Homo sapiens: one gene and its partners. The protein of the gene in region 3 purifies or fractionates together with the protein of the main gene of each other region. This does not show direct contact. Each region holds a gene or a part of one and is shown on either strand. Other genes may lie near its edges. The genes, in order: FBXL4, IFT88, ODAD3 and NSMCE4A.

Region 1 (7,549 bases), on a different chromosome or scaffold from region 3:
GAGTCATGATAAAGTTTACCTCTGAGGAAGTATGTGAATGGATGGAGCCATACAACAATGTAGCCAGATAAGCAAAGAATGTCAAAATGTTAAGAGTTGACAAAACTGAGTGGTGGCTACATGGGTGTTATATTGGAACCTATACTTGTTTGTGTATTTGAGATTCTTCATAGTAAGTAATTTAAAAATAAATTACCAAACAAGTTGTGTGAATTATATGTATGTGTGTATTTATCTCTATGTATGTGTATTTTTTAATTTAAAATTTCTTACCAACAAGAATTTATGAGATTCTTTCTAAAAATTCTAATATTCTCTGGATCTTACTTAAGGGAAAATCTTATAAAACAACCTTTTAATATGGATATGGTCCTGTAATTAAAAAAAAAACAAACCTAATGTTATGTTCCTGTCTGTTAATTAGTTAACATGGCTAAGTATTGTGAAGAACCTGAAAATTAAATTATCTTAATATACCCTTTCTAATGTTAACATTCTGAGAGCTACATGGGATTGTTTTATAAATGTTGTTATGTTGAAACTTAAGTATAAAATCAATATAAACTTTTTTTGTTTAAATTCAAAGAAATGCTCAATAATGAAATAATTAGACTTAAGTATAATAGTCCTCTGTGGCCTATTGTAACTATTATTATTTTTGCTTTAAGTAACCTTACATTTGAGAAATATTTTATTACTTTATTTTCTCAATGAGAATCTTTATCTGGGATTTGACCAAATGTTTTACATTTTCATTGACACATTCTTCACCTTTCCCTCAACTGATAGTTTTTAGTTTCTGATCACTTGGAACAGATTTTTACAGAAGTTGTATAATATCTTAATTTTTAAATATATTTAAAAATGTATAAGATATTTTGCCATGTAAGTTTGAATAGTTTTCTCCTTAATTGATAAAAGAAAAATTAGAAATTTGAATATTTTGCATTATTTTGTTTTTCACAATTTTTCATAGCAGACTTTTTTAAAAAAATATTTTAGGGTGCCATGATTATGTAGCAGTCTTTGGGTTTCTTTAGTGGTGAGACCATTTTCATTGCACAGGATAGATGGGCTTAAATGGCAGGAACATGACTAGAAAGTACATATTATATATATTTCAGTCAGCATGTTGCTACTGACAGGTGCTCAATGGTTGTTGGTATCCTTGTCAGCAAAGAGAATCCTTTGACATTAAAGTCACCAGCTCAATCCTGATTTGGGGTGACTCTATTGGCAGTTCCATCAAGCTGCAGCTGATCAGTGAATGTCAGAGCTGCAGCCATTCTTCAGGAGTGTCACCAGCCTGCTGCGGGTTTTTTGTCTTTTTGTTTTTGTTTTTGGAGGGAGGAGTGGTTTAGCTTGTCTTGTTGTTCAATTGTAGCCAGACTTTCAAATTGCTTACCTTTGGGAAATGAACCGAGAGGTCATAGGGAATATAGGTATCTTTAGGGCATCCAAAACCATACACAAAGTGATTACTTACATGGAGACTAGTAATGATTACCTTGACTCCAAGCCAATCAATGGTGGAGCCTCTGGGGACTCATTAAATGGCATTTGTGGACTCTGTAACCTAGCTTTTGAGCTGCATTTCAGGAAAAGCAGTGACAGCCTTTAATGTCTAATTGACCTCTTCTCTTTGTTTCACTTTCATTCACTTTCCATATTTGCCTCTGATGTGGTCCCTAATGGCAGCAAACAGCACTGCTCAGCATTTTGAACTTCTGTTCAGAGCTTCAGCACCTCAGTTTAGGCAGTTGTGTCATGGTAAGTGTTTGAGAATTCTTTATACTACTCAATTACTTGTTCTCTTTTTCTTCCTATGGGTGAAATGTATCCTGACTCACCCTACCCCACACACACCCACAGTTTTTCAGATTTATGGTTCTCTTCTTTGTCCCTTGCTTTCAAACATTTTTCTTAAATTGGAAAGTATGTCTTTGAAACACTGACATTATTTATCCATGAGAGCAAGGAAAGAAGTATAGTGTGGTGGAATAGAGTATAGTTCTGCCTCAAGCCAGATGTTGTCTCCGACAAGCTAATCACCTCTCTAGGTTTCTTCACAAACTAAGGTGTTAGTCATACCTAAATGCCGATAGTTCAGTAAGTTTTTCACTAAGCTCATTTTAGCTTTTAAATCCTGAGATACTTTTCTTGAAATTTTAATGATAATAGATAGGTTTATTTTATCTGTTTGTTTTTGTGTTTGTTTTACTGTCCTTACTGGTCAAAACAGAAAGATTAACACCCTATGTTGGAACTCTTTTTTGTGTGTGGAAATTTTACTGGTCTGTGAAATATAAAAGCCTAGGGACTGTTGGACTAGATAAGCTTCAAAGTCCTTCCAGATTTTTTTTTTTTTTTTTTTTTTTTTGAGATGGAGTCTTGCTCTGTTGCCCGGGCTGGAGTGCAGCGGCGCGATCTTGACTCACTGCAATCTCCGTCTCCCGGATTCAAGCAATTCTCCTGCCTCAACCTCCCAAGTAGCTGGGATTACAGGGATGTACCACTATGCCCGGCTAATTTTTTTGTATTTTTAGTAGAGATGGGGTTTCACCCTATTGGTCAGGCTGGTCTTGGGTTTCACCATATTGGGCAGGCTGGTCTTGGGTTTCACCATATTGGGTAGGCTGGTCTTGAACTCCTGACCTTGTGATCCGCCCGCCTCGGCCTCCCAAATTGCCGGGATTACAGGTGTGAGCCACTGCGCCCAGCCTAGTCCTTCCAGATTTAAAATACGATTTTATGTGCCCTTGAAAGAGCTCATGGAAAGAGTTAAATGTTTTAATCTAAACCACATAATTATATAGCTTTTAAATAATACTGAGATATAAAGGACAATAGAAATCTTGTGTGGAGAAGGTGTGCATGTGTGTGTTTGTGTGCACACATACCGTAAGTGAATCTTCCAGTGTAACTGACTGGAAGAATTCATTCCTCCTCACTTCATCCCCTGTTCCCTAAAACAATGTAGGTTTAGGAGATCCCCAGACCATTCCATTTCTGCCTTGCATTCACTTAGTAGGAAGACTTGAATTAGCAAAATGATTGCAAGATTCTAGAAAACTTCTGGTATGCTAGGGAGTATTTGCTTTAAGTAACCTTACATTTTGAGAAATATTTTATTAGAGTCAATAGACAGGGTCCCTGACCTAAAATGAGTACCATTTGAACACCTCTTAGAGCTCAGTGTGGCTTCAGAAATGCCTCAAGATTTGGCAGTGTAGACTAAGTAGGCCTCTTTTGATGACATATTTATCTCTGTGTCCCCATGGTCTTTAAAATCTTGTGGTTAGGTCTTATTAAACCCTAAGTATGGGCTCAGGCCATCTCAGTCTCTAGAAACAGTCTTGGGAGCCCACTAGATTTTCCTCACTTCTGGTCAAATTCTTTCCATAGTAAGCCATTTGATAGGCTTCTGTGGGTCTCTTCAGTGACTCTTCTTGATGGACCCGATGACATTTGATGGCAGTTTCTGTCACAACAAACCAGCCAGTTACTGCCACTTGGATCTTCCTTATTGCTAGCCTGCTCTCTTTAGATTGGTAAGGACCATTTAACTTTGCTTAGATGTACCTTATTCTGCTTGTTATTTACCTCCCCTTAAACTGGAGCAACATTCCTTAGAAAATCAAGCCTCTGGCCATAGACTCTTTACTGTTGGAATTATATATATGCTTATAATTGAAATTGTATTATTTTAAGTTAGCATTTTCCAGAGTTGACCCATGGAAAATTACCTCTAAAGGATAATCAATTTTAAAGGCTGTGTATTTGGGGGTGGAGTGGAGATTCCTAATGAAATTAGGAAGCCAGGTATGGTTGCTCAAACCTATAGTCCCAACTACTCTGGAGGCTGATGTAGGAGGATTGCTTGAGCCCAGGAGTTTGAGGCTGCAGTGAGCTATGGTTATACCACCGCACTCCAGCCTGGTCTTAGAGTTTTACAATGGTGTGTGCTACAACAAAGAAACTGTTTACCTTTGCTAAAACCAGTGTTTTCAAACCTTGCCTGACTACTGAACTCATTTTTCTATATTACATTTTCCATATTACATTTTATTGTTGACTGTCAATATAATAGCAATGTTTAGATTTGTGATATTTATGAAGCAACTGTTCACAGTATACATACATAGAGCACTGTGCTGACTTTCCCATGGTGATTGTGATCTATTATATACCTTCGCTGAGTATTCACCTCATGGCATACTTTCTCTGTAGTGAGTTTAATGTAGATACTAAATTAGTTGTGTCACTTTTTTTCTGAAACTAATCTTTGTGCCACAAGTGCCAGTTAGACAGATTTGCAGTGACAAGAACTTCTGAGGAGCAGTGTCTCACCTGTAATAAACCTGAATATTCTAGTCAATGCCGTAAACATGTTTTTAGGACTACTTAGAAATATTTATTTTTCCTCTTGATTGGGAAAGAGACAAATTTTATCTATTTCTTTTTACTTCTAAAAATGACTTTAAAAAGTTTAAATTCCACTATTATATAATGCTGATTGAAGTAATTTAAAGTTGCCTAAATTAAAGAATCCTAAGACCTACCTGCTATTTTCTTAAGTTTCCTACTAATTATGTGATCCTGGTTAGGTCACTTAAATTCTTGCTGATAGTTCCTCTGTGACATTTGCCCTATTTTTAAAATTAGATAATGAATAAGAAAATAAATATGTCTAATATTTTTGGGGAAAAAAGAGTCCTGCATAATATCTAAAATTTAGAAGGAATTATAGTTAATAAAGGAGGGATAGGTTGACTTTGTTCCAGTAAAAAGTATTTAGTTTCATTTTTATTTTCCCAGCCCTGAATTTGGCATGAGTAGTGCTGTGATAATTTCACAACAACAACAAAAAACTCTTGAAGGAATTTCTCACTGTGTTCTATGCTAGTAGAGAATTTGTTCAAATGCTGCTGAGATTGCCCAGGCACAAATTGGGCACAGTCAGAATCATAGGTTTCATAAAGTTTTTAAATTTTTTTTTTCTAAGTAAGCTAATTGGCTGCCCTAATTATCAAACCCACAGTTTTGTATTGTTCAGGTATACTCACGTAAGGAGATATGTTCCCCCAAACCTGTTTCTCATAGACTTCCGCATGATTCCACCATACATACACTGACATCCAGAACCTTAGAAATCATTACCTCTATATCTAATCTGTCAGCCTTTGGTTCTAACTCAAAAATGCAGCCCCAAATCTGTCGGATTTCTTCATTCCATCATTGCCACCTTAATCCAAGTCCCTGTCATCTGTCCTTTACACTGTTGCAGACCTCTTCAATGAGCTTCCTTCTCCGTTCCTCCCCACTATAGGCCCATCCTCCAGACAGAAGCCAGAGGTGGTTTTGTGTCAGTTTTTATGTAAATAATAATATGTCACTCCTTTGCTTAGAACCCTCCATTGACTTCCTTAGTACTTGAAAGAAAAATCTAACTCCTTCATGGTCTAAATGTCCTGGCCACTGCGTGACTCTGCCCTCCATAGCCCGTCCTCTCCCTCACCACCCTTGGACTGTATGGATCTCATTTTTGTTCCTCGAATGCATCAACCTCATTCCTGGAGATTTCAGCAATTACCACCTCTTCCCTCAACCCGTGACACTCTGATCACTCTCACATCACTCTGTTTTATTATTTTCCCACTATATGTCACTCTTTGAATGTATTTTTTCCTTAATTAGTCTGTGTGTCTTTCCTAAAAATATGGACAGTGTCTCCTTTTTTCAGTTTACTGCTGGTCCTAGCATCTGGAGTGGTGCGTAGATGTTTGTTGAAAATACAATTAAACAAAAGAACAAAAAGAAATAATCATTGTAATTGTTTACTATTTTGTTTCCTTTTGATAATTTTCCTTGTGATAATTTTAATATCTGATTTTAGCAAAATCAAATGAACCTCTTAAAATAACCTATTTAAAGAAACATTATTAAAGCATGTAAAGCCCAATAACTGAAATGTTTAATCCTTGATTAGTAGAGTCTTGTCCTGTAATCATGAGGTAAGCACTGGACACCTCCAATAACTGACAGTTGATTAACATATTGTAATCTAAATTATTTTCATGTTGTATATGCAGTCCCCAAATGCCTCATTTAAGCCAAAACTAGTATCCTTATTAGTATTATCAGCATTTCCACATAGTGTTTTAGAGCCTACCAGATACACATCAGGGAGATCATATATACTTGCCAAAGTATATTAGCCATATATAAAACGGAGGAAAGTAGGTGCTGTCAATGAGTAGCAGCAGCAAGGTTGAAATGGTGGGCATAAAAGAAGAACATATAATCCTTTAATTCTTCATGAGAGACTGAAGACATAGACTGCTTTGGGATTTAATTCATTAACATCTTCTGTCTGGAGTGCTCTTAAATGGATTTTTAAATAAATGAGTACTCCTGGCTGTTTTATGAAACAGTGGCAGATCCGTGAGGTCAGTGGGCAGATCTGTATTAACAAGGATGTGGATTTGTTTACATGGAAGCAAAGCAATAGGTTATAATTAAGAATCTGACTTACTCTAAACAGTTTGCATGTCTGAGCATAACATGTAAAAGATTGGAATTATTTGATTTCCAGATTGAAGACTATGATGTGATAGCTAGCATGATAGGAGCCAAGTGTAAAAAACTCCGGACCCTGGATCTGTGGAGATGTAAGAATATTACTGAGAATGGAATAGCAGAACTGGCTTCTGGGTGTCCACTACTGGAGGAGCTTGACCTTGGCTGGTGCCCAACTCTGCAGAGCAGCACCGGGTGCTTCACCAGACTGGCACACCAGCTCCCAAACTTGCAAAAACTCTTTCTTACAGCTAATAGATCTGTGTGTGACACAGACATTGATGAATTGGCATGTAATTGTACCAGGTTACAGCAGCTGGACATATTAGGTAAGGTTACAATATATAAATTTGTTTTAAATGTCTGTTTCCTTGACAGAAAAGCCAATCTCAGACTTTTTGTTAGGAAAAAGAAAATTTTTGGATACAATAAAAATTTTATCCTGATAAGATGGCTTGGTTTGATAGGAAATGCAAGATAGATCAGTTAATATAGGGAATAATTATATATGTACTTTAATAAAATAGTGAGGACAATAACAATTTTATAGTTGAAACTGTAAAAAACTATAACCATTAATTCTTGGTCTACTTGTAAGAGTGAGAATTTACATGAGCTGCGCTCTCTATTTTTATTAAGGAGAGAAGAAATTAATTCATTTGTATAATGAATTCAAGCTAGTTTTTTTTAAGTTTCTTAATTAAAATTCTTGATTAAGGAATATCGTGAAATCTTTATCCCTGATAATTCTAGCGTTTAGGAATAGTTCTACCCCAGGCAGATCTATTGAAAATCTTTTCCAGCTCTGGGATTTCTTGAATCCTTGCTGCATTCATCAGAAAGGAACCCTGTGTAATTTTGTTGCTTCTTACTTTTAGCCAGGGGTGCTAGCAGTGTCACAGTAGTTATCATTGTCCACACAATTGATACTTTGTGAAGTCATATCGCACTTGCACATTTTACATCAAAT
Region 2 (7,549 bases), on a different chromosome or scaffold from region 3:
TCCACCTTCCAGGTTCAAGTGATTCTCCTGCCGTAGCCTTCCAAGTAGCTGGAACCACAGGTGCGCTCCACTACGCCCGTCTAATTTTTTGCATTTTTAGTAGAGATGGGGTTTCACCATGTTGACCAGGCTGGTCTGGAACTCCTGACCTCAAGTGATCCACCTGCCTCAGCCTCCCAAAGTGATGGGATTACAGGCATGGGCCACCACGCCTGGCCAAATTTGTCTTTTTAAATAATTGTGGTTATTGCTTTATTCATTTGTTTATTGCTTTATGAAGCCCTTCTTAACTCAAGATTATAAATCATTTTTCTGTATTTTCTTTTCATACTCTTCTTATAGCTTTGTTTTTTCTGTTGAGTTTCAAAATTTTGAGTTCATTTTTTATGAAATAAGAATCTACATTTAAAAAAATTAATGGCCAGGTGTGGTGGCTCATGCCTGTAATCCCAGCACTTTGGGAGGGCCAAGGCAGGCGGATCATGAGGTCAGGAGATCGAGACCATCCTGGCTAACACAGTGAAACCCCGTCTCTACTAAAAATATAAAAAATTAGCCAGGCGTGATGGCGGGCGCCTGTAGTCCCAGCTACTCAGGAGGCTGAGGCAGGAGAATGGCATGAACCCAGGAGGCGGAGCTTGCAGTGAGCCGAGATTGTGCCACTGCACTCCAGCCTGGGCGACAGAGCGACTCCGTCTCAAAATAAATAAATAAATAAATAAATAAATAAATAAATAAATACAAATTAATGTATAGTCAGTTGTTCTGGCACCACTTATTACTAGCACTTTCCTCCCCACTGATTTTAAATGTCTTTAACTAAACTCTATAGTTGAGTGCATTTCTGAACTGTTTATTCTGTTCTATTGGTCTGTTTGTCTATTCCTGCCCCCTACCACACTTTTAAAATCACTGAAGCTTTGTAGCATCTTTTGGTGTCTGCCAGTGGAGAATCCCCACCCTAACATTATTCTTTAAAAAAATCCTCAGTTGGCCGGGTGTGGTGGCTCATACCTGTAATCCCAGTACTTTGGGAGGCTGAGGCAGGTGGATCGCTTGAGGCCAGGAGTTCCAGACCAGCCTGAGCAACATGGCAAAATCCCGTCTCTACTAAAAATACAAAAAATTAGCTGGGCGTGGTAGCACGTGCATATAATCCTAGCTACTTGAGAGGCTGAGGTGGGAGAATCACCTGAGCCTGGGAGGTCGAGGCTGCTGTGAGCCATGTTTGTGCCACTACACTCCAGTGTGGGCAGCAGGAGTGAGACCCTGTATCAAAAAACAAAAACCTGAGTTCATCTTCATTTTCTCTTCTGGATAAATATTTTCATATATTTTGAGATTTATTCTGTTATGTTAAATAAATTAATACCAATAATGATACTTATAGATTTTCTTTTTTTTCTTCTTTTTTTAAGGCCTTACCTATGAGAAACTAAATCGGCTAGATGAGGCTTTGGACTGTTTCCTGAAACTTCACGCAATCCTACGAAACAGTGCCGAAGTTCTTTACCAGATAGCAAATATGTATCTTATTTGAAAACCTTAGGGACAGTTATTAATTCTCTCAATTGGTGATTGAAGATCAATTATTAAATAAGTTTAACTAATGAAGTAATTGATGAGGATAATATTTGAAGTAAGTGATGAGGATAATCTGGCAGATTATTGTGTGATAAATATCATTTGAGTAATCCTATTTTAAGATGTAGTTTGCATCGAAAGAGGAATTAATGGTTAAAACTATTATTTATTAAATTTTGAAAATAACTGAAGTAATTAGGACATTTTCGGTACATATAAGCCATTCATTGAAAGTCAATTTGGTGCTTTAGAACGTTGTATTAATTCTGAAGCTTGTAGGGTATCATTGAAGCACTAACTTACTAAATAAAATACTGTTTATTACTGATTACTATTGATTGAATTTGGATAATTTTTCTTACTTTTTTAGCTGGCCTGTAGATATAATGAGGTCTCCAAAGACTGTTACCCTCTAAAATTATGTAATTCTTCATATGAACTCATTCATTCTGTTCATTTAATAGTCATTTATTGAATGTATACTATGTGTATCAGTATTATGTTTCAAACTCAGGGGAATGTAGAACTACAAAATGTTGCGCTAATATCAGTTTCTTCCACAACACTTAGCTTTCTTAATAAGCCCTGCTCTTGGTTAGAAAAGCAGAAATGTGTTAATGTTTTTAATGCTTTTCATGCTATTTGAAAAGCACTTTTAATTTCTCTCCTTATTTTGGTAAGCTTTGGCCACAACATTGGGAAGAGTTAAACATCTTAGGTAGATTTTCAACTTACTGTTATCTTGGTTTAAATTTTATACAAATATGTTTAGAAAATTTTATATGTTGTGAGGTGTACCATTAATAATTTTAAGTACTATCTGCTGTACTTTTGATAAAGAATTTTATTGAAAAATTTTAGTTTTAGGCCAGGCACAGTAGCTCACACCTGTAATCCCAGCACTTTGGGAGGCCAAGGCAGGCGGATCATTTGAAGTCAGGAGTTCGAGACCAGCCTGGCCATCATGGTGAAACCCCATCTCTACTAAAAATACAAAAATTAGCCGGGTGTTGTGGCAGGCACCTGTAATCCCAGTTACTCCCGAGGCTGAGGCAGGAGAATCACTTGAACCTGGGAGGCAGAGGTTGCAGTGAGCCAAGATAGTGCCACTGTACTCCAGCCTAGGTGCAGAGCTAGACTATCTCAAAAAAAAATTAGTTTTAGAGCAGATAGCATCATAGTTACTCCTGTTAGTCTTTTTGTTCTGTTTTGTTCATTTAATTTCTCTGAAACTGCCAGTGTCATTATCTTTTACCACCCAGTTCATGATCAGCTTGGATCCAGTCAAGCAACTGATGTATTTGAGACTGTTTGAGTACATTTTCTTTTTTTTTTTTCTTGTGGTATCACACTTGTCATCGTTAAAAACAGTAGATCTTCTGGTGTCACTCTTGTCACCATTGAAAACAATGCTTCTTTTTCAATAAACTTTGAATTGGAATATTTTCATTTCACTGAGATATCTAATATGTATAAAATAAATAGTAATTAATCAAAAAGTACTGATATGAATAAATTATTTGTATATACACCGAAGACTTAGTAGGTACTAAAAGGAAGCTACAAAAAAAAAAAAAAACAACACTGTCCTTGGGTTTATAATCTAATTAGGGAAAACTCACAGGAAAAACACATGGAAATAATTTCCTTAATATGCTGAACATGTTAAGAAAAAGAATAACTGGATGCAACATTCAGGACATTTTTATTAAGGACAATTTTTGGACAATACTTTGAATAATTCTACCAGAAATTTGGGAGTTGATCTTAGTGGATAGTAATGGAGGAAAAGGGAAAGCAGGCTATATACATAGGGAGCAAGAGTGTTACCTCCACAGTACTGCTGCATTCCATCTCCACCCCTGAGATATCCAGAGGAAACAGTATACAATAGCACATTACTGTAGGCTAAGAAATATTGTTACTGTAATGTTTTTTAAGTTTGCTTATTGCTTAATGAATTTAGAAAACATGTTTTCCTTAACTGACATTGCATAAGATATGAATTAATGGAAAATCCCAGTCAAGCTATTGAATGGCTAATGCAGGTGGTCAGTGTTATTCCAACCGATCCTCAAGTTTTATCTAAGCTAGGAGAATTATATGATCGTGAAGGAGATAAATCTCAAGCATTTCAATATTACTATGAGGTAGGTGTGTTATCTTAATTTCCTTCTGTGTTTTAGCATTTTATGAATTGTTATAAAGAAGGCAGCAAGGCTTTAAAATTTTAGAAGATCTTACCAGTTTTAAAATGATTTATTTAAAATAAAGCATTCTTGGAAAATGAAGTTAGTTTTTGTTTTGTTTTGTTTTGAGATAGAGTCTTGCTCTGTCGCCCAGGCTGCTGCACAGTGGTGCAGTCTCGGCTCACTGCAGCCTCCTCCTCCTGGGTTTAAGCAATTCTCTTGCCTCAGCCTTCCGAGTAGCTGGGATTACAGGCGCCTGCCACCACGTGCAGCTAATTTTTGTATTTTTAGTAGAGGGGTGTTTTGCCATCTTGGCCAGGCCAGTCTCGAACTCCTGACCTCAGGTGATCTGCCTGCCTCAGCCTCCCAAAGTGCTGGGATTACTACCACGCCAGGCCTGAAGTTAGTTTTTTACTTGTTTTAATGAAAAAATGAAATAGGGCTGGGCATGGTGGCTCACGTCTATAATCCCAGCACTTTGGGAGACCAGAGTGAGAGGATTGCTTAAGACCAAGAGATGAAGAACAGCCTAGGCAACATAACAAGACCCCATCTCTACAAATAATAATAAAAGGACAGTCCTGGTGGCCCATACCTTTAATCCCAGCACTTTGGGAGGCCAAGGAAGGCAGATTACTTGAGGCCAGGAGTATGTGACCAGCCTGGCCAACATGAGGAAACCCCCTCTCTACTAAAAACACAAAAATTAGCCAAATGTGGTTGTGGCATGCCTGTAATCCTAGCTACTTAGGAGACTAAGGCACGAGAATTGCCTGAACCTGGGAGGCAGAGGTTGTAGTGAGCCAAGATCGCATTTACTACACTCCAGGCTGGGTGACAGAGCGAGACTGTCTTAAAATAATAATAATTAATAATATTAATAATAAAAAGAAGTACCAGTTCATTTTTCTCTTGAGGCACGATTTGCATCTCTTTTTTATTCTTTTAAATATTTAAATTGGACTCAGCTCATATATTGTTATATCAAAAGTATAGATAATTGAAAAGTGTGTCAAGCAAAGCTTAGGTTTTCTAAATATTATATAGTTTCAGAATTTACAAAGTACTTAGGACAGTTCATACTCCTTTATTAAGAAATTCCATATTGGATAAATTTATTCAATAGGTAAAGTATTCAAGAAGTAAATTATATGTTGCCATTGAAGTTGTATTGTTACATTCCATATTTGTTTTACAGTCATATAGGTATTTTCCTTGTAATATTGAAGTCATTGAGTGGCTTGGAGCCTATTACATTGACACCCAATTTTGGGAAAAAGCTATTCAGTACTTTGAAAGAGCTTCTCTTATACAGTAAGTAATCATTAGGATTTTATGTTTAGTTAATGTCATGTCTTGAGTTTTTTTAATCCCTAGAATTAGTATCTGATAGACCTAGTAAATTCAAGAACAGATGTTGATGGACATTCATAAATTATTTTTGTTTGTTTGTTGTTTGTTTGAGACGGAGTTTCGCTCTTGTTGCCCAGGTTGAAGTGCAATGGCGTGATCTCGGCTCACTGCAACCTCCGCCTCCCAGGTTCAAGCGATTCTCCTGCCTCAGCCTCCCGAGTAGCTGGGATTACAGTCACGCACCACCATGCCTGGCTAATTTTTTGTATTTAAGTAAAGACAGGGTTACACCATGTTGGCCAGGCTGGTCTCGAACTCCTGACCTCAGGTGATCCACCTGCCTCAGCCTCCCAAAGTGCTGGGATTACAGGCATGAGCCACCGCGCCCAGCCAAATTATTTTTATTTTCTTATATTTTATTCCATTTTACTTGGTCTTTATTGTGATAAATATATTTCCCTTTGCATAGAATTTTTTAAATATCCTCTTTAAGATACTTTTCTTTATGTATTTTTCTTACACCTCAGCAAACAATTATTGTTCCTTTATCAATCAGAAAATGACTTATCTCAGTCCTAGGACAAAGTTTCATCTCTAAAAGAGTCTTAATACAAGACAGTTTTGTTGGTTTCAATTTATAATTAATATATATGAAAAATTAAAATGTTTTCAGTGTCTTTAAGTTCGTATCAGAATGTGTTATACATATCTGATTCAAAACAATTCAAAAATAATTGGAATACATCATCTTCTGCTTTGTATTTGGCCATATTGAATTTTAAGAACAAATGCCCCTTAGAATAATTTGAATGATAAAGAAATGCTTAATAAGTGAAATGATTTCTGTTTGGAATTTCTATTAGGCAATTCATTTTGTGATATTTATTTCACATAAATTTCTTTTGAGAATTATAAAATTAATTACCAAGGATGAGGAGATAGTTTTAGTTTAATTATATCTTTAAGATTAAAGCTATTTCAGTAATACACTGTAAGCTTTTTAATTACACTTAATACTACTCTAACATTAGCCATTAGCTCATGCAACACTCTTCCTTCTTTGAGGCTCAGTCCGCCACTGTTCCATTTTTAACTCCTATTTGTAAATGTCAGATGTTGATTAACAGTCAGTCCCTTACCTTACCTAGTCTAGCTTATATTCTTCCTTTTCTTTCCATCACTATTCTAGTCCCACAAGTTTTGACCTCCCTAACTCCATTGATCTTTACCCTCTCTGTAGTTCAGTCACCTGACTCATCTGATTGTGATTATCACTAACACATTTACACCAATAAAATCTTTTTTTTTTTTTTTTTGAGACAGAGGACGGAGTCTTGCTTTGTCGCCCAGGCTGGAGTGCAGTGGCGTGATCCCGGCTCACTGCAACCTCTGCTTCCCAGGTTTAAGCGATTCTCCTGCCTCAGCCTCCAGAGTAGCTGGGATTACAGGCACATGCCACTGCACCCGGCTAATTTTTGTTTTTGTTTTTGTTTTTGTTTTAGTAGAAACGGAGTTTCACCATGTTGGTGAGGCTGGTCTTGAACTCCTGACCTCAAGTGATCCATTCGCCTCAGCCTCCCAAAGTGCTGGGATTACAGGCGTGAGACACCACGCCCAGCCTACACCAATAAAATCTTAAGTTACAATGTCCAGCTGTCTGAACATAACCTCTTACCTTTCCAACTTCCATACTCCCTATTTTCCAGTGCATTTTTCTTTGGTGATATTGAGACCTCCCCTCTTGACCTTCCCCTTATCTTGCAGTCTCAGCCTCCTTCTGACTTTAATTCTGAGCTTATCCATACTAGATTGCTTAATTGGTCACATCTTTTCCCTTTCTTGCTAACATTCCTGTTTTTTTTTTTCTCTCTCTCTCTCGCTTTACTACCCCATTTATTCCAAGAGATTTCAGTTCTTAGGTTATTCCAGCCATTGATTCCATTCCTTTACACAGGCTGTGAAATACTGTCAAAGGTAAATTATGTAACCAGGTGAATTGATGCTACACAAATCTGTGTGATATGAGCACTGCTCATCAGTCTTAAGTATTTCTCTCCCTCCTGTTTCTCTGATCTCTTCAATTCCCCTATGTATTTTATGCCTCGGTTTCCCAGAATATAGAAGCCTTTTTTAGAAACCTTCCTAACATTTCTCTCTACTTTTCTATAAACTTACTTCCACTTGCACCTGCTGTTATCTCCTTCTCAGTGACAGAAACTTATTCAATATACATTCATTATATTACATCTCTTTTGAGCATTTGTTTTCTATACCATATATCTTAATTTTTCACATTTTCTCTTTTTTACATGCTAAGCTTTGATTTGTTCTGTAAGTTCTACCTCTACAATAAAAATGTAGGCTTTTTGAGAAGTGAGAGTATTAGTTCTTATGTCACATAGTTCTTTACATATTCTTTAAAT
Region 3 (7,466 bases):
CTACTTGGGAGGCTGAGGTGTGAGAATTGCTTGAACCCGAAGGGCAGAGGTTGCAGTGAGCCAAGATCACGCCACTGCACTCCAGCCTGGGCGACAGAGTGAGACCCTGTCTCAAAAAATATAAATAAATAAAAATAAATCATCATGCCTATGAACTACAAAAGGATCAGCTGGCAGGAATTGAGAACAGCTGTTCCCCTAGATGCCACAATCCCCACCCCTCCGTATTGCCTCATACTTGGCCTCCTTCTGTTGTATGCTTTTTTTTTTTTTGCTTTTTTTTTGAGACGGAGTCTCACTCTGTTGCCCAGGCTGGATTGCAGTGGTGCGATCTCGGCTCACTGCAACCTCTGCCTCCCGTGTTCACGCCACTCACCTGCCTCAGCCCACCGAGTAGCTGGGACTACAGGCGCCCGCCACCACACCCAGCTAATTTTTTGTATTTTTAGTGAGACGGAGTTTCACCATGTCAGCCAGGATGGTCTCGATCTCCTGACCTCGTGATCCGCCTGCCTCAGCCTCCCAAAGTGCTGGGATTACAGGTGTGAGCCACCGCGCCTGGCCTCCTTCCGTTGTATACTTTACCTGCCTGTGGGTGTTTCGGTTTTCAGGACCTGCTGCAGAGCGTGACAATGGAAAGTTTAGAGTCCAAGTGCCGGCTCTGCTATCTCCTATGTGACCCTGGGGAAGTCATTTCCCTTTCTAAACTTGAGTTCCCCCATCTGTTGAATCGGGAAACAATCCTACCTGCTTCCAGACTAGAGGGAAAGGTGGGGATTAGGATTCACAAGGCACCTGGCACAGACAGAGAACCCGATACAGAAAAGCAGAAGAGAGAGTGGGCCCGATTCACTGGGTGGAGCCAGGCAAAGTCTTGGGGTGGGGTGATGGGAGGGGTACTGTCACCCACGTACTTGCAGGTGTTCTCACAGATGACGCCGCTGTTGTACTCGTCTGTTCCATCGCAGCAGTCTGTGGCAGAGGCAGAAGCCAAGATCAGACCTGGCAGTGCCTCCTCCCTCCCTCCCTCTACCACCTTTCCAGAATCCTGGTGCATCTTCACTTACCACAAACACCATCGTTGACCCGGTTGGAGGGGATATACAGGGGCTTATAGCCAGTGTTGGTGCAGTGGAAGCTGCCATTAGGACAGGCAGCCGTGCCTGTGAGGAAGAAGGGAGGGAAGGTTTTCGGAGTCAGCTCAGGGACAGACATGTCCCATCCATCCACAGATAAGAGCCCCTGACCCACACTGCACACAGCACAAGAAAGGAAAGGAAACCAAAGGAAGGAAAGAGTTGTACACTGCACAGCCAGGGCTCGAAATAAAGCTCTCCAGTGCCGCCTCCTGCCTCTTCTCACTGAGGCCCTTCAAAACAGGGTCTCCACCTGGCACGGGGGCTCACACCTGTAATCCCAGCACTTTGGGAGGCCGAGGCGGGTGGGTCACCTGAGGTGATGAGTTTGAGACCAGCCTGGCCAACACGATGAAACTCCATCTCTACTAAAAATACGAAAAATTAGCCGGATGTGGTGGCATGTGCCTGTAATCCCAGCTACTCAGGAGGCTGAGGCAGGAGAATCGCTTGAACCCGGGAGGTGGAGACTGCAGTGAGCCAAGATCATGCCACTGCACTCCAGCCTGGGCGATAAGAGTGAAACTCCATCTCAAAAAAAAAAATTAAAAACAAAACAAAACAAGGCCAGGTACGGTGGCTCACGCCTGTAATCCCAACACTTTGGGAGGCCGAGGCGGGTGGATCACAAGGTGACGAGATCGAGACCATCCTGGCTAACACAGTGAAACCCTGTATCTACTAAAAATACAAAAAAAAACTAGCTGGGCGTGGTGGTGGGTGCCTGTAGTCCCAGCTACTCAGGAGGCTGAGGCAGGAGAACGGTGTGAACCCGGGAGGCGGAGCTTGCAGTGAGCCGAGATGGCGCCACTGCACTCCAGCCTGGGAAACAGAGCAAGACTCCGTCTCAAAACAAAAACAAAACCAAAGACACGGTCTCATCCAGGCACGGTGGCTCACACCTGTAACCCCAGCACTTTGGGAGGCCAAGGCAGGAGGATGACTTGAGCCCAAGAGTTCCAGGCTGCAGTGAGCTACGATCATGCCACTGTACTCCAGCCTCAGCAACAAAGCAAGACCCTGTCTCTTCAAAACACACAAAAACAAAAAGCCAGGGTCTCCCTTCACCTCTGTCTCCTGCTGGATTGCTCTTGGCCCCACCCTGTCTCCCACTTCTAGGGGTTTGCCCGTGTTGACCCCTCCATCTGCAGCACCTTCGGGATTCAACTGAAACCTCACCTCCTTGGAGGAGCCTTCTCTGACCCCGAGGCTTGGGAGGAGGACGACTCTGGGCTCCTCCAGCTGCCCGGGGCCATAACACTGACCACTGACTTCTGAGCTTGTTTCTGCCCACTCAAAGGGGAGCCAGCAGAGGTAGTATCTTGGTCACACAGACAGGGCCTGGCACTGAGCAGTGTTCAATAAACATCTGATGGATGAACAGAGAAAAGGCTCACCTGGCTCGTCAGAGCCATCTTTGCAGTCGCAATAGTCATCGTTGACCTGATCAAATGGGATGGTGGCCGAACCGTCCAGGCAGGTGAAAGGCTTGGACTCATCGTAGAAGTGATGATCTGCGGGGTACAGGAAGCTCAGCCCAGGGCAGGTAAGCGCCTTCTCCACCAAATACCACCTCTGTCCTCCCATCCCCACCAGCGGAGCACTACCGGGAAACTGAGTCAAAAGGCTGTAAATGCCTATCCCTAAGGCCCAATGTTGGCCCCTCCCACCTCCAGCCTGGCGGGAGGGTGAACAGGAGGACTCACTGGTGAGGGAGACGCCCCGGGGCCTCTTGACCTCCACGGCCCAGCACATGGGTAGCAGCAGCAGCAGCGGCAACAGCATCTCACCAGACGCTCTGAGGCCCGAAACGGGTTCTGTGGGAGGAAGCCTACAGCGGGGAGATGCGCTGTGTCTTCACGCTGCAGGAAGAAAGCGGATCCCGGTCAGTGGGAGAGGGCTACTTCCAGCCAATTGGATTCCTCCATCGCTTCCAGGCAATGAGGCCTCACTTTGTTTCCGATATGGGGGCGAGGGGCAGCGATCTCCCCAATCCTGGCCAGTCTCACTTTGCTCAAATCAATGGCGAGGATCTCAAGATCTCAAAACCTCCGCTCCCTGTGCCCAATTGTGACCCAATTCCCGCCAACAGACCAAAGGGATTAACAGCCTCCGCCGTCCACACCCACACATGCACCCTCCGGTTGCCCCCTGTAAGAAACTGAGGTGCCCTCCCACCCGCTCGTTCACACCTACACGAGGCCGGAGCAAAGGTCAGTATCCACCGCACCCCTCTTGTCCAGCAGCCGCGGTTCCTGCTGCAGAAAGAAAGCGGAAATTTCTGGACCCCGTCACTTCCGGTCGTACGTTCCGCACCGGGAACGGAGACTCAGGGTCGCCATGTTGGGAGAGGCAGGAGTGGGGGCGGTGCCAGAGCCGAGACGGCCATCTTGGGCAGGACTGTGAAACCTTAGAGAGGATAGTTCTGAGGGCTAGCTCTTAATGGCGGCGCAGCGTACCTCCATCTTGGGAGTGGCGGCTTCTCAAGCCGGAAAGAAAGTTCCTGAAAAATGCCCGCGAACCCCCAGGGGCGGGATAAGGTTGGGGGAGGTAGGGAAACGGAATGAGCACGTGACCCCAAAGTGTCCAGACCCTCCGTCCTGCGGCGCGGCTCTACCCCGCCCACTGTTGGGACCGCCCCTCTATGCAGCCTCAGCCAATGAGAACGCAGTGTCAGCCACGGAACGCGGGTGATCTCCATGGAAACAGTGGAGAGAGACGGGGAGGCGGTTACCTGGCAACCGAGAGATGCGGAGCGCAACCACCTAGCGGTCGGAAAGTGCATTTTTCAGAGCCCTAGGAATCCGAGCTGACGGATCCCTGACAGGGGCGACTGACTCCTAGTTATCCCCCTAACCCCTAGGGGCCTTCAGCCCCAACCCCATCATGACATCTCCTCTGTGCAGGGCGGCCTCCGCCAACGCCCTGCCTCCTCAGGACCAGGCTTCGACGCCCTCTTCCAGGGTCAAGGGCAGGGAGGCTTCGGGCAAACCCAGCCACCTCCGAGGCAAGGGCACAGCCCAGGCGTGGACCCCAGGCCGTTCCAAGGGAGGATCCTTCCACAGAGGTGCAGGGAAGCCCTCTGTGCACTCTCAGGTGGCTGAGTTACATAAAAAGATACAACTGTTAGGTAAGATGGCTCCAGAGGGTACAGAGGGTCAGGGGTCAACAGTGCCCATCCAATCTTCATGGTGTGACAAAGGTATTTCTCCAGCATGAGTCTAGGTAAACCGTTTCTGGGCAAAAACTCATACTTAGTTCATGTTTTTCCTTCTCTGTCTCTTAAAACTTCTCATGGGTTCAGAACCGACTGAACTGTACTTCATACTTTCTTGTAATTTATTTTCTCTATTTTTTTTTTTTTTTTTGGCAGAATCTCACTCTGTTGCCAGGTGGGAGTGCAGTGGAACGATTTCGGCTCACTGCAACCTCCGCCTCCCGGGTTCAAGCGATTCTCCTGCCTCAGCCTCTTGAGTAGCTGGGACTACAGGCACACGCCACCACGCCTAACTAATTTTTGTATTTTTAGTACAGAGGGATTTCACCATATTGGCCAGGGTGGTCTCAATCTCTTGACCTCCCAAACTGCTGGGATTACAGGCGTGAGCCCGCCTCGGCCTCCCAAACTGCTGGGATTACAGGCGTGAGCCACTGCACCCGCGTTTTTTTTTGTTTTGTTTTTTGTTTTTTGAGACAGGGTCTTGCTCTGTCGCCTAGGCTGGAGAGCAGTGGCATGATCTCGGCTCACTGCAACCTCTGCCTCCAAGGTTCAAGCGATTCTCGAGCCTCAGCCTCCTGACTAGCTGGGACTATAGGTGCGTGCCACCACACCTAATTTTTATATTTTTAGTAGAGACTGGGTTTCACCATGTTGGCCAGGCTGGTCTCGAACTCCTGATCTCAAGTGATCCACGGCCTTGGCTCCCAAAGTGCTGGGATTACATGTGTGAGCCACCGCGCCCAGCCTTCTTTCTTTCTGACAGGGTCTTGCTCTGCTGTTGAGGCTGGAGTGTAGTGGTTGGATAACAGTTCACTGCAGACTTGACCTCCTAGGCTCAAGCGATCCTTCCACCTCAGCCTCCTGAGTAGCTGGGACTACAGGCATACACCACTGTGCTTGGCTAATTTTCTTACTTTTTGTAGAGATGGGGTCTCACTATGCTGCCCAGGCTGGTCTCAAACTCCTGGGCTCAAGCAATCCTTCCTCCTCAGCCTCCCAAAGTGCTGGGGTTACAGGCATGGGCCGCTGCACCTGGCCTGAGCATAGATTTTTAGAGCCAGATTTTCTGGGTTGGAATCCTGGCTCTGCATAATAGTTGTCCAACCTTGGGGGACTAAGAGTAACCTAATTGTTCTCAGTTTCTCGATGTGTGAAATGGGGATAGTAACAGTACAACATAGGTACCTGAAATGTGTAAAGTGCTTAGAACAGTGCCTGGCACATAGCAAAGTACCATAAGGTGTAAACCAGTGGTTCTTGTTGGAAAAGGGTTGGTTTGCCCCACAGGGGCCATTTGGCAATGTCCTAAGACATTGAGACCAGCATGGCCAACACGGTGAAACGCTGTCTCTACTAAAAATACAAAAAATTAGCCGGGCATGGTGGCATGGATGTCTGTTGTGGGTGTGTGTCTGCCACTGGCATCTAGTGGGCAGAGTTGAAGATGCTGCCCAACATTCTGCAAAACACAGGAGAGCACCCCACGGCAAATAATTATTCGGCCCAGTTGTTGGTCATCCTGAGGTTGCAGAATCCTTGTGTGTAAGCTATTATTATTGCTTTTGTTGATATTATTAAGAGGTAATCATGGCTGGGCGAGGTGGCTCACACCTGTAATCCCAGCACTTTGGGAGGCTGAGGTGGGCGGATCATTTGAGGTCAGGAGTTTGAGACCAGCCTGGCCAACATAGTGAAACCCCATCTCTACTAAAAGTACAAAAATTAGCCGGGCATGGTGGCGCACGCCTGTAATCCCAGCTACTTGGAAGGCTGAGGCAGGAGAGGGGCTTGAACCCAGGAGGTGGAGGTTGCGGTGAGCCAGGATTGCGCCACTGCACTCCAGCCTGGGTGACAGAGTGAGATTCCGTCTTAAAAAAAAAAAAGGGTAATCTTGCATGGTTGCTTGTGACCTTAAGCAGTTTAATCAGCCCAAGCCTCTGTCTTGTCATCTGTGCAAGGGGTATGATATGCGTATGCCATGGATACCTATTGGCACGTGATATATGGCATTCGGAAACCTCTTAGTCCAGCATCCAACACATAATAAATGCTCACAGTGAAGTACAGTTGACCGTTGAACACCATGTGTTCACATATATCATTCATCCTTTCAAGTTAAAAAAAATTGAGATGGGCAGGCCGGGCACAGTGGTTCATACCTGTAATCCCAGCACTTTGGGAGGCTGAGGCAGGAGGATTGCTAGAGGCCAGGAGTTCGAGACCAGCCTGGGCAACATAGTGAGATCCTTGACTCTACAAAAAATAAAGTAGCCAGATGTGGTGGCACATGCCTCTAGTCCTAGCTACTTGGGAGGCTGAGGCAGGAGGACTGCTTGAGCTCAGGAGGTTGAGGCTTCAGTGAGCAGTGATAGCACCACTGCACTTCATTCTGGGTGACAGAGCAAGACCCAGTCCCAAAAAAGAAAAGAAAAGAAAATACAACAGTCCTGGAATGCAAAACCTGAGTATACAGAGGGACAACTGTTTGTATCTGCAGGTTCCACAGGGCTGACTGTGGGACTTGAGTATGGAAGGATTTTGGGGTTTTTTGTTTTGTTTTGTTTTGTTTTTTGAGACAGAGTCTTGCTCTGTTGCCCAGGCTGGAGTGCAGTGGCAGGATCTCAGCTCAATGCAACCTCCACCTCCAGAGGTCAAGTAATTATTGTGCCTCAGCCTCCTGTAGCTGGGATTACAGGCACCCACCATCATGCCCGGCTAATTTTTTTTTTTTTTTTTTTTTGAGGCAGAGTCTCGCTCTGTCACCCAGGCTGGAGTGCAGTGGTGCGATCTCGGCTCACTGCAAGCTCTGCCTCCCAGGTTCACACCATTCTCCTGCCTCAGTCCCCTGAGTAGCTGGGACTACAGGTGCCTGCCACCATGCACGGCTAATTTTTTTTTTTTTTTGTATTTTTAGTAGAGGCGGGATTTCACTATGTTAGCCAGGATGGTCTCGATCTCCTGACCTCGTGATCCGCTCACTTTGGCCTCCCAAAGTGCTGGGATTATGGACGTGAGCCACCGTGCCCGGCCATGCCCAGCTAATTTTTGTATTTTTGTAGAGATGGGGTTTCACCATGTTGGCCAGGCTGATCTTGAACTCTTGACCTCAG
Region 4 (7,549 bases), on a different chromosome or scaffold from region 3:
AGTTTGTTTAACAAACAACAGGCAAAAAAAATAAATGAAAGCATACTTTTCATTAGGTTGGGTTCAATATACGGAGAGTGCCCTGTGCCAAAGCCACGAGTTGATCGTCCAAGAAAAGTTCCTGTGATACAAGAGGAGAGGGCAATGCCTGCCCAGGTTTGTTTTAAAATGTTGCTTTTAAAAAAACACATTAAAGTTAAAATAGCTGTTAAAATAATGTGCATGCAATTTGGCCATTTTTTCTAAGTGTGCGGGTCTGGAGCCAGGTTTTGTCACTTAAATAATCATTTTATTTAAGCCTTTAAGCATTTTATTGGATTGGCTGCTTGTCTTTGTTTTAACTCATTTCTCTAGTTTTGATCAGTTCTCCGAAGCCAGGGTCAACCTCAGCACTGTCAACATTTACGGCTGGATAATGTTGGTTTGGGGAGCTGTCCTGCGCATTGTAGGATGCTTAGCGGCATCCCCAGCCTCTACCTGTTATATGCTAATAGCCCCCCCGACCCCTGAGTTGTGACAACCAAAAATGTCTACATGTGACAACAAATGTTCCCTGGGGAGGTGGGGGGAAAGTCACACCCACTCGAGAACCACTGTTTCTAAACCGCCCTTTTGTATTTTGCTATTTTATGTTCAACCTGAAAATGGTTAATCTGGTAATGTTACTATTCTATTAAGAAATTGATATGAAAATGTTACTGAGGCCAGGCACAGTGGCTTACGCCTGTAATCCCAGCACTTTGGGAGGCCGAGGCGGGCAGATCACAAGGTCAGGAGTTCGAGACCAGCCCGGCCAATACGGGGAAACCCCGTCTCTACTAAAAATACAGAAATTAGCTAGGTATGGTGGCAGGTGCCTGTAGTCCGGGCTATTCGGGAGGCTGACGCAGGAGAATTAGGAATCTAGGAGGCAGAGGTTGCACTGAGCCGAGATCATGCCACTGTACTCCAGCCTGGGCGACAGAGCGAGAGTCCGTCTCAAAAAAAACAAAGGTTGCCCGAGTGTGGTGGCTTACGCCTGTAATCCCAGCACTTTGGGAGGCCAAGGCGGGCAGATCCACCTGAGGTCAGGAGTTAGAAACCAGCCTGGCCAACATGGTGAAACCCTGTCTCTACTAAAAAGTACAAAAAATTAGCCAGATGTGGTGGTGGGTGCCTCTAATCCCAGCTACTCTGGAGGCTGAGGTAGGAGAATTGCTTGAACCTGGGAAGCGGAGGTTGCAGTGAGCCGAGATGGCACCACTGCACTCCAGCCTGGGCCACAGAGCAAGACTCCATCTCAAAAAAAAAAAAAAAAAGTTACTGAAACCAGAAAATCTGTTTTTTTTTAAACCATAATTTTTTTTGAGACAGAGTCTTGCCCTATCACCCGGGCTGGAGTGCAGTGGCGCGATCTCGGCTCACTGCAACCTCCGCCTGCTGGGTTCAAGCCATTCTCCTGCCTCAGCCTCCCAAGTAGCTGGGATTACAGGCAGGCACCACCATGCCCGGCTAATTTTGGTGTTTTTTAATAGAGACGGTTTCACCATAATGGCCAGGCTGGTCTCGAACTCCTGACCTTGTGATCCACCTGCCTCAGCCTCCTACAGCGCAGGGATTACAGGCGCGATGTCGGCTCACTGCAAGCTCCGCCTCCCGGGTTCATGCCATTCTCCTGCCTCAGCCTCCTGAGTAGCTGGGAGTACAGGCGCCTGTCACCACACCTGGCTAAGTTTTTGTATTTTTAGTAGAGATGGGGTTTCACCGTGTTAGCCAGGATGGTCAGCAAGACCCCATATCTAAAAAAATTTTTTTTAATTAGCCAGGTGTCTTAGACAAGGTAGAATGAATTAAAAAAAAAAAAATTAGCCAGGTGTAGTGGTGCACGCTTCTAGTGCCAGCTACTCAAGAAGCTGAGGTGGTAGGATCCCTTGAGCACAGGAGTCTGAGGTTACAGTGAGCCGAGATCATGCAACTGCACTCTAGCCTGGGTGGCAAAGCAAGACCCTGTCTCAAAAAAAAAAAAGAGTTCGGGTGTGCAAGAGAGAAGAAAAGGAGTTTGGGTGTGCAAGAGAGAAGAAAACGTTAATAGGCCAGTAAGTAGGTCTGTCAGCTTGATAATGACTTTTTTCAGTTAAGAAGAATGGAAGAATCTCATCAAGAAGCAACAGAGAAAGAAGTAGAAAGAATCTTGGGATTGTTGCAGACATATTTTCGAGAAGATCGTAAGTGTAACACCATTCAAAGTGGAGCAATTTGTATTTATCTGTTCACTGAGGTTACTTGTATTTAAAAGGCAATTTCAGCTGTATGTAATATTTGAATAAATACATATGCATTTTATGAGGATTCTTCTCCCCTTTAGAAATTTCATGTGAAAACTTTGAAGTTAACGTTTTCATTTTTATCTTTAAAAGATGGGGATTTTTTTTGTTACAAAATGAAATATGCCATTCAAGTGAGAAATGTCAAAAGTAGCTGTTCCACCTCCCCTCATTATAAAATGTAATGTGTATATTTTCAGATTATTTTATCAGTTTTATACACACCTACCTAAATAGTTTGTTTTGGCCGGGCGTGGTGGCTCACACCTGTAATCCCAGCACTTTGGGAGGCTGAGGTTGGGAGTTCGATACCCGCCTGACCAACATGGAGAAACCTCATCTCTACTAAAAATACAAAATTAACCGGGTGTGGTAGTGCATTCCTGTAATCCCAGCTACTTGGGAGGCTGAGGCAGGAGAATCGCTTGAACCCGGGAGACAGAGGTTGCGGTGAGCCAAGATCACGCCATTGCACTCTAGCCTGGGCAACAAGAGCGAAACTACATCTGAAAAAAAAAAGTTTGTTTTTTTCTTTTTTTCCAAGCTAATCATAATATGCACATTCTTCTGCTACGTGACTTTTCCATGTGGACATTCTTCCACATCATTTCATATAGATCTCCCTTGTTTTGTTCACTGATTCCCATTATATGGCTGTACTGTAAATATATTTAACAGATCCTCCATTAATGGATGATTAAGTTCCTTTTTTTTTTTTTTGAGACAGAGTCTCGCTCTGTCGCCCAGGCTGGAGTGCAGTGGCGCGATCTTGGCTCACTGCAACCTCTCCCTCCTGGGTTCACGCCATTCTCCTGCCTCAGCCTCCCAAGTAGCTGGGACTACAGGCACCCGCCACCACGCCTGGCTAATTCTTTTGTACTTTTAGTAGAACCTGGGTTTCACCGTGTTAGCCAGGATGGTCTTGATCTCCTGACCTTGTGATCCACCCACCTCGGCCTCCCAAAGTGCTGGGATTACAGGCATGAGCCACCGCGCCCGGCCAAGTTCCTATTTTTTTTTTTTTTTTTTAGGAGACAGTCTCACTCTTTCGCCCAGACTGGAATGCAGTGGCACCATCTCAACTCACTGCAACCTCCACCTCCTGGATTCAAGCAATTCTCCTGCCTCAGCCTCCTGAGTAGCTGGGATTACAGGCGCACGCGCCACCACATCTGGCTAATTTTTTTTCTGTATTTTTAGTAGAGACATTGTTTCGCCATGTTGGCCAAGCTAGTCTTGAACCCCTGACCTCAGGTGATCTGCCAGCATCGGCCTCCCAAAGTGCTGGGATTACAGGTGTGAGTGCCATGCCCAGCTGGATGATTAAGTTCTTTATAGCATTTTACTCTTGTATAAATTGCTGAAGTAAAAAATCTTAGTATGTAATTTTGTGCAGTTACACTTGTATTTCTGTAGCACAGCTTCTTAGAGGTGGTTTCCAGGTCAGTGGGCATACATGTTTTTAGTAGAGATGCCAAATTGGCCTCCAGAAGGGTTGGATTGATTTGCACTCCTGCAGCAGGAATGAGTACACATCCTTTCTTTGTCTCTGGCTAACGCTAGAGTGTACTGATATTAATGACAAGCAAAAATCAATTTTTTTTTCTCTTTTTGTCTATAGCTGATACCCCAATGTCCTTCTTTGACTTTGTGGTTGATCCTCATTCTTTCCCCCGTACAGTGGAAAACATCTTTCATGTTTCCTTCATTATACGGGTAAGATTAAAGATTATTTTTCTAATTGCTTTTATATGCTTTTAAAAGGCTACATAAGAAAAGCTGTAGAAGGGAGCTGGCAAAGGTATCTGTATACACTAGCCAGTATATGTTTCAGACCCATTGTAGCAAAACATTAATTGGCATATTAGGTAGAAGAAGCTAGCTAAAATTTTATATGCTTGCTTTTATGTTTTAGAAATTATTTAGAGAAAGAATTGGAAAAATTTGAATATGGAACTTTAGATTAGATAACAGTATGGTATAAATGTTAAATTTCCTGCATTTGATAGTTGTCATGTTGTATAATATCCTTGTTCTCAAGAAATACACACTGAAAGATTAGGGAAAAGAAGCAGGCCGCCTATCATTCTCACTTCATTCATAAATAATAATATGTAGAGTGATAAAGTAAACGTGGTAACTAACACTTTAACGACTGATGAATATGGGTAAAGGATATATGCCACGTGTTTATAGTAGTCTTATAGCCCTTTAAGTCTGAAATTATTTCAAAATTGGTTTTAAAACTCTACTCAGATATGTACCATGGAAATTTGCTTTAGACTATCTTTAATCTTACTTCAGGTTGCATTCCCACATGTAAGATGAATTTGATTATAACCTTAGAGAAAACCTATGTCTACCAACGTATTTTCTCAGAAATAATAACAAAGGCATATTTTGCCAGTGGTCCCAGTGACAGAATTATGCAGAATAAAATGTGGAGTATTCCAAAATATGTATAAATCAGTTAAAGAGACAAGATGAGTTTCACTTAAGAGATTCTCAGGATGGAGGCTGTGTCTGGGTGAAAGAGCTGATTAGAAACCCAAAGATACCCTGTGTAAATAAAAGATACTAGGGAAGTCTTATCTATATCATCACCTTATTATTGCTATGGTGTAATTTGATTTTCTGAGATACTGAATTTTCTGAGTAATTTTTTCCATCTAGTGCGTATAGGTTTGAGTCTTAAATGTTTGTCTTCTCCTAAAATCATGTTTTCGTTTTAGGATGGTTTTGCAAGAATAAGACTTGACCAAGACCGACTGCCAGTAATAGGTAAATGATACTATGTTTGGAAAAATTAGTTTTAGAGAAAATATATTTGTTAGTAGAATTTAAGTATTTTACTAAATGTAAATGAATTTTCAATGTAGATTAACTTTTACAATATTGTATCTTGCTCAACTACCTGAAGATACTGAAAACATGGCCAGCGTCTAAAATTTTGATGGATTCATCTATATCATTGATTCAACATCTGCTGTAAATATTAACAAAGAAATGATATAATTTCCCTCAGATCTTAATTTAGAAAGTTGGTGATTGCAGTCATTTTTGTAGTATCCCTCTTTCTAATCACGTTTTGTCAGATGCCGGCACCTTCTTTTCTCTTTGAGGTTCTATGAATCTTTCATTCTTACCTGAATAATTTCACACTCTCCATTACTCATGTCCTCCTAAGGTCTCCTGTGGAGAGTGAATATTTCCATCGCACTTACTTGCTACTTTCAATGTTCTCAATGTCCTATTGGACTCACTAGGGCTTAGCTCTGTGGTTGACACATAGATATGCAGATTTTCAAATGTCTGGAATGTGTTACTCTACTACATGTTTTTTGAAATGGAAACAGATGGAATGACTGGCTACTGTAATAATACTACAGCAGCTCCATAATGCATGAAATCCTAAAAAGTATGTAATATTATAAGTATCTTTTCAATACAGGTTTCATTGCTATTATTCATCAGTTTCCGTTTAGATTACCTGTTCCGATTTAATAACCTTTGATAAATTTGAAAAATTTGTCTTTCAAACAGAGCCTGTTAGTATTAATGAAGAAAATGAGGGATTTGAACATAACACACAAGTTAGAAATCAAGGAATTATAGCTTTGAGTTACCGTGACTGGGAGGTAAAGCTCTGCCTGTTGCCCCTGCATAGTTCTGACTCTGCCTTCACTTGCAGTAAGCCCAGTGCCTAAATGTTCATTATTGTCTGCCAGGAGATTGTGAAGACCTTTGAGATTTCAGAGCCTGTGATTACTCCAAGTCAGAGGCAGCAGAAGCCAAGTGCTTGATGCTAGCTGAAGGTAACCTTTTCAATGGGATGGCTACACAGTTCTATTAAAGTTCATTTGGCAATCCAAAGTATCCCTTTTCCCCATTCCAGTGAAATTTGAATTTTTGCCTCCCTGTAGTGCCCCATTCTTAGAACTGTGTGTAACAGGTGAGAAAGGGATAGTGGTTCTGCGTTCCCTTCTCTGGATTGATTAAATTTGTGCTGTTAAGATTTGCAGCTGAGGCCAGGCGTGGTGGCTCACGCCTGTAATCCCAGCACTTTGGGAGGCCAAGGCAAGCGGATCATGAGGTCAGGAGTTCGAGATCAGCCTGACCAACATGGTAAAACCCCATCTCTACTAAAAATACAAAAATTAGCTGGGCGTGGTGGCATGCACCTGTAATCCCAGCTACTCAGGAGGCTGAGGCAGGAGAATTGCTTGAACCCGGGAGGTGGAGGTTGCAGTGGCTGAGATCGTGCCACTGCACTCCAGCCTGGGAGACAGAGCAAGACTCTGTCTCAAAAAAAAGACTTGCAGCTGAAAGAAGCAGTGCAGGATTGTTCTTGGTTTGGTGGGTTTTGTTTTTGTTTTTGTTTTTAATAAAAAATAGGGAAGGGGTCTCACTATGTTGCCCAGGCTGGTCTCAAACTCCTGGGCTCAAGGGATGCTCCCATCTCAGCTTCCCAAAGTGCTGGGATTATAGGTATGAGTCACCATACCCAGCTGCTGCTTTTCCCCCAACAAACTGGTAAATTAGATAAGTGAAATATTGAATCCTCTCATCCATGTTGTTGTTCACCATCCCATTAGATTTGCTTATTTTATAAGTACAAAGCAGAAAAAGAGGATTAGGATAGAATTACCTTAGAATAATCTTGGTAAATTGGCATTTCTAAAATTTGTATTAGGCTATGAAAGAATTCTTCTTCATTTTTATGAAGGGTAACATTTCTAGAAAGAAATCTTAATAATGATCTGACATTTTGTAGTGCAGACAGTTGTGGGTGGGAATCAGAAGACCTAGATTCTATCGGCTATGCCCCTTACTTTATTTATTTATTTTTGCCCCTTACTTTAAAACCTTGGGCAAGTCACTTAATCTCACCCAACTTCTCTTTTTTTTTGAGACAGAGTCTTGCTCTGTCACCCCCAGGCTAGAGTGCAGTGGCACGATCTCAGTTCACTGTAATCTCTGCCTCCCCGGTTCAAGCAATTCTCCTGCTTCAGCCTCCTGAGTAGCTGGGATTATAGGCACCTGCCACAGTGACCAGCTAATTTTTCTATTTTTAGTAGAGACGGGATTTCACCATGTTGGTCAGGCTGGTCTTGAACTCCTGACCTTGTGGTCCGCCCGCCTCGGCCTCCCAAAGTGCTGGGATTACAGACATGAGCCACCACGCCTGGCTTCAACTTTATTTTTTTTTAATCTATAAATATATCTATAAAATGGAAAGATTTTCA

Evidence for each region.
Region 1: the proteins of ODAD3 (region 3) and FBXL4 purify together in Homo sapiens (affinity purification with mass spectrometry; 3 studies listed by BioGRID and IntAct, with this or other methods). This does not show direct contact.
Region 2: the proteins of ODAD3 (region 3) and IFT88 purify together in Homo sapiens (affinity purification with mass spectrometry; 3 studies listed by BioGRID and IntAct, with this or other methods). This does not show direct contact.
Region 4: the proteins of ODAD3 (region 3) and NSMCE4A purify together in Homo sapiens (affinity purification with mass spectrometry; 3 studies listed by BioGRID and IntAct, with this or other methods). This does not show direct contact.

Annotation. Positions count from the first base shown.
Region 1 is NC_000006.12:98,874,774-98,882,322, reverse strand, and holds part of FBXL4 (F-box/LRR-repeat protein 4), read left to right. Parts: intron 1-1,698; coding exon 1,699-1,770; intron 1,771-6,595; coding exon 6,596-6,908; intron 6,909-7,549. UniProt on the Homo sapiens protein: Substrate-recognition component of the mitochondria-localized SCF-FBXL4 ubiquitin E3 ligase complex that plays a role in the restriction of mitophagy by controlling the degradation of BNIP3 and NIX mitophagy receptors.
Region 2 is NC_000013.11:20,639,872-20,647,420, forward strand, and holds part of IFT88 (intraflagellar transport protein 88 homolog), read left to right. Parts: intron 1-1,418; coding exon 1,419-1,527; intron 1,528-3,583; coding exon 3,584-3,734; intron 3,735-4,971; coding exon 4,972-5,087; intron 5,088-7,549. UniProt on the Homo sapiens protein: Positively regulates primary cilium biogenesis. Also involved in autophagy since it is required for trafficking of ATG16L and the expansion of the autophagic compartment.
Region 3 is NC_000019.10:11,431,573-11,439,038, reverse strand, and holds the start of ODAD3 (outer dynein arm-docking complex subunit 3), read left to right. Parts: upstream 1-3,917; 5' UTR 3,918-4,022; coding exon 4,023-4,266; intron 4,267-7,466. Other genes in the region: PRKCSH (glucosidase 2 subunit beta isoform 3 precursor), read right to left, coding at 915-972, 1,068-1,163, 2,534-2,650, 2,843-2,921. UniProt on the Homo sapiens protein: Component of the outer dynein arm-docking complex (ODA-DC) that mediates outer dynein arms (ODA) binding onto the doublet microtubule. Involved in mediating assembly of both ODAs and their axonemal docking complex onto ciliary microtubules.
Region 4 is NC_000010.11:121,957,893-121,965,441, reverse strand, and holds part of NSMCE4A (non-structural maintenance of chromosomes element 4 homolog A), read left to right. Parts: intron 1-56; coding exon 57-156; intron 157-2,113; coding exon 2,114-2,204; intron 2,205-3,334; coding exon of another isoform or gene 3,335-3,441; exon of another isoform or gene 3,442-3,689; intron 3,690-3,924; coding exon 3,925-4,019; intron 4,020-5,035; coding exon 5,036-5,084; intron 5,085-5,223; coding exon of another isoform or gene 5,224-5,249; exon of another isoform or gene 5,250-5,843; intron 5,844-5,846; coding exon 5,847-5,941; intron 5,942-6,031; coding exon 6,032-6,106; 3' UTR 6,107-6,118; intron 6,119-7,549. UniProt on the Homo sapiens protein: Component of the SMC5-SMC6 complex, a complex involved in DNA double-strand breaks by homologous recombination. The complex may promote sister chromatid homologous recombination by recruiting the SMC1-SMC3 cohesin complex to double-strand breaks.